Homo sapiens: one gene and its partner. The protein of the gene in region 2 purifies or fractionates together with the protein of the main gene of each other region. This does not show direct contact. Each region holds a gene or a part of one and is shown on either strand. Other genes may lie near its edges.

Region 1 (3,656 bases), on a different chromosome or scaffold from region 2:
CTGAATGTTCCTGCTTGCACTTGCTCTCACCTCCCAGGGTTCTTTGTCCTCTGGCTGGAACAAAGTTCCTATCTTAGCTCTTACCCACTCATCTTCTAGAACCAGCTGTAACACCACCTCCCCTCCTCAATGCTTCCAAGGCCCCACATCTGTCTGTCTGTCCCACACCTGTGACACTTTATAATCAAATTTCCCCTAAGTCAGTCTTCCCCTTCAGACTGCCTAGCTCCATGAAGGCCAGGAATGATCCGAATTCACTGGCCCAGCAAATAGCTGGTGCTCAGCAAACATGTTTGTGGGATGAGGCAATCTGGATCCCTGTGGAAGGAGCACTGTCCTGAGAGTCACAGACCTGGAGTCTTGTCCCCTTTCTGCCTGGCTGGTAGTGTCACTCTGATCAGTTAATTAAACTTTCCGGGGCTGGGCGCGGTGGCTAACACCTGTAATCCCAGCACTTTGGGAGATGAAGGCAGGCGGATCGCTTGAGGTCAGGAGTTCGAGACTAGCCTGGCTAACAACATGGTGAAACCCCGTCTCTAATAAAAATACAAAAACTAGCCGGGTGTCGTGGTGGGCATCTGTAATCCCAGTCCCTCAGGAGGCTGAGGCAGGAGAAATGCCTGCACCCGGGAGGGACAGGCTGCAGTGAGCCAAGATTGCGCCACCACACTCCAGCTGGGTAACAAGACTCTAGCCTGGGCGACAGACTCCATCTTAAAAAAAAAAAAAAAAAAAAAAAAAAAAAACACCAAAAAACCCCACCTTTTTGGGCTGTCTTCCCCTTTGTGAAAGGACAGCTTGATTATGTCAGGAACACCCCACATGTGCTACCCTTCTCTGCTCCTGTGGCACTTTCCTCCACGTAGCCTTAACTTTGCCTCAGAATCTTTCTCAAGGCAGCACTTTAAGATGCCATGTCAATCAACCAGGATTGGCACACGAAGCGAGACGCAGTTAGATGATCATAGAGATCTTATTGCTCAAACGCCCAATGGTTCCATCGGCCTAATGGAAACCTCAGCTCCTATATGCTTCCCTTCTGAGAGTGTCAGTGTCCCCACCAGTGGGACAATGTCAACGGTCGCTCATCTACCTCTGTGAACTTGTCAGCCACCATGTAGCGGACGCGCCAGGACTTGTCTTCAGCGGCCTGGCGCAGAGTGGGCATCACCAGGGCCTCCAGATCCTCCTGGGGCAGAAGCTGGGCGATGTTCACGCACGCCTCCACCGCCAGCAGCCGCACCGAGTCCTAGGGAGAGGAGAGGAACAGTGGGAGGGCAGCAGAGGCCTTGCTGAGCTCTGGGATTCTCTTTCATGGGCAGGAACCACCAGAAGGACGGGAGAGCAGAGGGCCAGGAAGCAAAACTCACCTGCTCGTCAGAGGCCAGGTTGGAGAACATGGGGATGATCTCACTCTTGACGTTGTCCAGCTCCAGCACCTTGGCAAACTCCCCCAGCTTGGAGGCTGCGGCCCGCCGCACCATGGGGGTGTCATCTGAGCACAGGTTCCGGAAGTACCTGGGAGTCGGGGACGGGGATCCTGAGGCAGCAGGCAGTATGGCAGAGAGGAGCAAGCACAGACTCTGCAGTTGTGTGGGTCCAGGTTTTAGCTGAATGACCTTGGGCAAGTGATGACCCCCTCTCTGTCTTCCCAGCCCTATGAAACGGAGCTGATAGTAACAGTACCTACCCCACAGGTCCGCATGAGGTTTAAATGAAAATAGTGTGTGTGAGACACTTCGCAGATTGCGCATAATAAATCTAGTCAATGCTAAGTGCTGACGATTACATCATTCCCATAAAAATTGCTTAACCAACGAGCCAGGCACAGTGGCTCATACCTGTAATCTGAACACTTTGGAAGACCAAGGCAGGAGGATTGCTTGAGCCCAGGAGTTCAAGACCAGCCTGAGCAACATAGTGAGACCCCATCTCTGCCAAAAATAAAAAATGAGCCCAGCGTGGTGTTGCACACCTGTGGTCCCAGCTATTTGAGAGGCTAAGGCAGGAGGAATGCTTGAGCCCAGGAGGTTGAGGCTGCAGTGGGCTATGACTGCACCAGTGCACTTCAGCCTGGATGACAGAGCGAGATCCTATCTCAAAAAACAAACAAACAAAAAACTGCTTAACTAAGAGGCAGGTCTAGAGCCACAGAAAGGCTTTATTTTTCAGCAGCAATTGCTTCGATCAAAGGCGGTGGGGGCCAGTGTAAGTATCTAAGCAAGTGTACAGCCATAAACCAGAGTTCTGGAGTGAGTCAGGCTCAAACCCGGGCTTGACGGTCAATCGTTTGCAAAGTAGACGAGCAGGAGGCTGAAAACTGAGGTGGTTTATCTGCCAAAGGCACTGGACCTGGGACAGGCTGGAGATACCATCAGATGTAAGTTGCTGAAAGTTTTTATGTTCCAGATTTTGCTCTAAGCACTTTATGTGTGATAATTCTTTTAAATCCTCACATTAACCAGTGGGAAGGAGGACCTGTCATCATCTCAATTCCTAAGTGAGCAAGGGGGCAGAGGTGGGTAAACTGACACGTGGCCGTGTCCAGAGACCAACTCTCGAGGATGTGGCCTATCAGGTGGTAAGCAGGAGTGGGAGTGGAGAGAGTTCAGGGGCATTTGGGCCCCAGCTAGACCAAAAGGAGTCTGAGGCTTTAGAGAAGGTTGGAGCTGAGATGGGAGCTTGGAGCTTCCAAGGAGGCAGAGACTCACTGTCGAAGTTCCGCCTTCACAGCACTGGACACTCGGGGGTAGCAGACGGAGAAGAGGCCGCAGGCCGAGGTGCGGGAGGTGAACCAGTCGCCGCCCGCCAGCCGCTTCACTAGCGGCACAAAGTGCGCCTCCAGGTCAGAGGGCGAGTGCTCGTGTGAGATGGCCCGTAAGGACTCCACTGCCTTGTCCCGCACCACTGTCTCCTCCACTGTGGCCAGCGACTCCAGCGGTGGCTGTGGTGAGAACACAAAGTCACTGGACAGCTCCCTCTCCACCATCCGCAGCCCTGGAGCCCCATCCTGCACCCCATCATGGGCTCATCTCCTCAGAGAAAACTTCCCTATTACCCATCCCGACCTTCATTAAAATAGCCTTTAAAAATGGTTGCAATGAATGACTCAAAGGAAAAACGTAATATTATGCCAGCCAGCAGAAGGTCTCTGTCAGCGTGCCTTCCACAAAGGTTCTTATTTAGGGGTCCTTGAAGGAGTTTCACTGGGGTCCATAAACCTTAAAATTACACACGTTGCTTTCTGAGGAGAAAGTTCTTAGCCTCTCAAAGTGCAATGATCATCACTGACACTGTGTAGAACATCTACTCACTGTGTGTACTAGGCAGGACCTCCGTGTTGTACCAGGGGTGCTTGTTCTTCCTCACTGAATTCTATAAAGCAAGTCCTGATTTTAAAGAAGAGAAAACGGGCCGGGCGCAGTGGCTCACGCCTGTAATCCCAGCACTATGGGAGGCTGAAGCGGGTGGATCACGAGGTCAGGAGTTCAAGACCAGCCTGGCCAATATGGTGAAACCCCGTTTCTACTAAAAATACAAAAAAATTAGCTGGGTGTGGTGGTGCGCACCTGTAATCCCAGCTACTCGGGAGGCTGAGGCAGAAGAATCCTTGAACCCGGGAGGCAGAGGCTGCAGTAAGCCGAGATCGCACCACT
Region 2 (3,656 bases):
ACAGAAAAGAACCATATATGGGACAGCTAACAGGCAGTACAAACTTAAGTTAAAATAAGACATCAACACTTAAGGTCCAAATTTATAACTTCAAGACCAGGACAGTAAAAAGCAGCTAGCAGCTTTTGTAGACCAGAGTAAGTCTTTCTTTAAAAAAAAAAACAAACAAAAACAAGAACAAAAACAAACAAACAAAAAAAATTAAGTCACTAGGAATAGAGGTTTACCAGGGAGGAAAAAAAAATGGGTGTTATTGTTTAATGGGTACAGAGTTTCCTTTTGGGATGATGAAAAGTTCTGGATATGGATAATGGTGATGGTTGCAAAACACTGTGAATGTACTTAAAGCCACTGAATTGTACACTTACAAATGGTTAAAATGGTGAATTATATGTTGTGTATGTTTTTATCACAAAAAAAAATGCAAAAAAAGTCACTGGTACTCTTCTCTGGGTACCTAAGGTATTTCACAATATAAACCCCATGCATGCAAGGCTCAAAATGGCATAAAACAGTTAATATACTTTCCAAGGGACATAAACCCTTACCAGGTAGTGATTTGAACCTGAAGAAGTCTAACTCTACTTTATGGAGAATACACTTAAAACAGTACTCTTTGGTTAATAAAAACAATAAAATCACCTAGTCAATTTTTTCCTCAAAGATTAGTAGGGCTACTAAATGAAGTGAAGACACGATGTTTTGACTCAACGGATGTCTTTGTTTAGATAAACTCTGGTCTAGTGAAGAACTCCACCCCACAAAAAACATCTCTCAGTAGAATAAAAGTTATCATTTGAGTTGGTATATTAGGATAATTTTTTTTTTTTTTGAGATGGAGTTTCACTCCTGTTGCCCAGGCTGGAGTAAAATGGTGCAATCTCGGCTCACCGCAACCTCCACCTCCCGGGTTCAAGCGATTCTCCTGCCTCAGCCTCCCGAGTAGCTGGGATTACAGGCATGCACCACCATGCCCAGCTAATTTTTTGTATTTTTAGTAGAGAAGGGGTTTCTCCATGTTAGTCAGGCTGGTCTCAAACTCCCGACCTCAGGTGATCCGCCTGCCTCGGCCTCCCCAAAGTGCTGGGATTACAGGCGTGAGCCATCACACCTGGCCTATTAGGATAATTTTTAAAAAGTCAAGCTTGCATACAAGTAATTTCATGAGTTGAAAAGTTATCTATATGAAACTCCAGGTATAATTATTTTTCTCTCAGATCTGTCCCTTTTAGCCTCTCTAATTCAATCTCAACAAGCAGACAGCACAAAAGACTCAAACTGTTCACTTATAGAAGCAACAGGTGAAGTGTTTAACACAGGTAACTAGATTTCTAAGAATTTTCTTTAGGTCACCCATAATCCCTGCTGCTTTCATTCTTTTACTCTCGTCCTTCCTCCTATGGAAAACTTTTTGAATGATGACTTATGCCTGGCTGAACATCCCAACTCTGCTCTGCAGTACCAAGTGGCCTCATTTGATCCTCAGTGCCCTGAGATGCCCTGGTGGGTATTACCCAGATCACTTTGGACACACACCTGGCACCACAAGGCTGGATTGATCTGGAACAGATGCATGGAAGATTAGCCCATCAATCAGCACTGCTTTTGTAAAAAACTAGAATTCAAAATTTCCTATAAAATAGTACCTCTAATTTTACTGCAAGAAGTCTTTGCTTTCAGATAGTTTCGGATTAAAAACTTGAGAAATTCCGTCCATCCACCATTATTCCATGAAAGAAACAGGAATAGAGGGAAAAAAACCACCTAGATAATTTCCATGTACTGACAGATGCAGATTATGAAATTAAAATATCAATGACATTTCTTTTCAATCATCATCACATAAAAACAAAAATTAAAAACAAACCAAAAGCCTCCCAGTGCCACCTCAGCATAAATTGAGCAACAGCTCTCCCCATCTCTGCCTTACATAATAAACTACAAGCTAATTAAACTGTGAATGAATGTGATAACTTGTTACCCTTAAAGATATTCACAGAGATAGATGAACTTCATTTTGGAAGCTGGAAGGTAAAATTCCCCTCCCTGGGAACCCCTACAGGAGTCGGCCTAAGCTTCCCTTCCTGCATCCATGTGTGTGTTGGTTCCTTCTGCACTGCACAATCCCCAAGGCTGGAGAGAAAGGCTGTTTCCCTCTGCTCTGTATTCCCTACAGCACCAGGCCAGGGCCAGGCTGAATGAAAGTCAAGTGCAATCCTCGCTATGCTACCGGGAGAGCCCTAACATTCCTTTTGGATATTTGTATCCAGCACACAGTATTATAAGCACTTGACAGCTGAATCCTGCCTCTTTGAGGCTATATTTATTTTATTTATTACATGCCATTTTGTACCTTACTGAAGAAACAAAGGCGGGGGCAGAGAGGGGAGACCAGAAAAATCTCCCAGCAAAAAACAAATGAGTATTGTAATGAACTATAATCATTAAATTGCACTCCATATGTCTGATCCAGGAACCAATAAGTAAAGGGGAGGGTTAATTCTAAATGACCATCAATCATATTGTTAAGCCTTTTTTAAAAGAATACTTATCCCTAAAGAGAGAACCTACACAAAGTGACCTTTGCAATTTACTGGTATCAGGGTTGGAATAGACTTCACAGCTGTGCATTTCACAGCCATAAAAGATAAGAAAATTTGACAGCCTTGGAGAAGTAGGAAGAATCTGCAAGTTAACACCACCCCAAGATCCTCACAATTAAAAATATTTTCCAGAGGATTAGTTCCTCTGTCAAGAAAATTGCAACCATCACCAAGCAGGAACATATTGAACCTGTGAACATTTACTCTGCCAACTTTGACAATTCAATATACCTGAAAACAACCACAATGTGATTGAAAACAAAAAGCAACACCTACCCACTAAGGAAAAAAAGTATGCAGAGAGGACAGAAAAGATTACCATTATTCCTTACTCAGCCTGACTGCAGTTCAGTAGTTTGGATTAGCATTTTGAAGTGTAAACACAATTATTTCGGCAAGGCATGATTTAAGGAAAACACACACACACAAATACACTGTGGTGACACTTGTGTCTCTGCAAGACACAGCAGACGTAAGAATTCAACAATCCCCCTACCCTGTTTTCAGATGCTTCCCCCATCACTGCTACAGGTCACCAGTATTTATTTGCATTACTGCATCCCCCTGCAATGGGCCAGAGTTGTTTCCCAGTGGTGCATTTCAACATTAAAGAGTCATAGGAAACACCTGGAATGATCTGCCACCATCACCAAAACCAAGGCAGCAAATCTGAACACTTCCAATGGGGCTACTTTTTCCTCCAAGCCCTGCTCAGAAACACTTAGAAAGGAGAACCTGAAAATACTTTGTCCCCTTTCAGATAAAATGTTATCAGGAACACCCAGGTGTATGCTGCAAGGTAGCCCACATCACCCAAAGCTAGAAGGCAAGGGCACACTGATTGCAATGGTCCCCCAAAGTATACAATGCATCCATTCACATATCTGGTCTGTTTCATCAACTATGGTAAAGAAAGTGTTTGCTGTTGTGGCAGGGGAGTGGCTCTATGAAGACAAGGTCCCAGAGAGAGTGTTGGCACCTTCATCACAGAAAGAAACAAGTACATACATACCCGTGCCTCTGGAGCCAGCTCAACAAATTTCTGGGTGTTTC

What was found. Proteins that work in one complex are often made in the same cells at the same time.
Region 1: the proteins of CCDC6 (region 2) and PPP2R1A purify together in Homo sapiens (affinity purification with mass spectrometry; 5 studies listed by BioGRID and IntAct, with this or other methods). This does not show direct contact.

The regions. Positions count from the first base shown.
Region 1 is NC_000019.10:52,210,548-52,214,203, reverse strand, and holds part of PPP2R1A (serine/threonine-protein phosphatase 2A 65 kDa regulatory subunit A alpha isoform), read right to left. Parts: intron 2,945-3,656; coding exon 2,712-2,944; intron 1,519-2,711; coding exon 1,371-1,518; intron 1,250-1,370; coding exon 1,094-1,249; intron 1-1,093. UniProt on the Homo sapiens protein: The PR65 subunit of protein phosphatase 2A serves as a scaffolding molecule to coordinate the assembly of the catalytic subunit and a variable regulatory B subunit.
Region 2 is NC_000010.11:59,896,439-59,900,094, forward strand, and holds part of CCDC6 (coiled-coil domain-containing protein 6), read right to left. Parts: intron 1-3,656.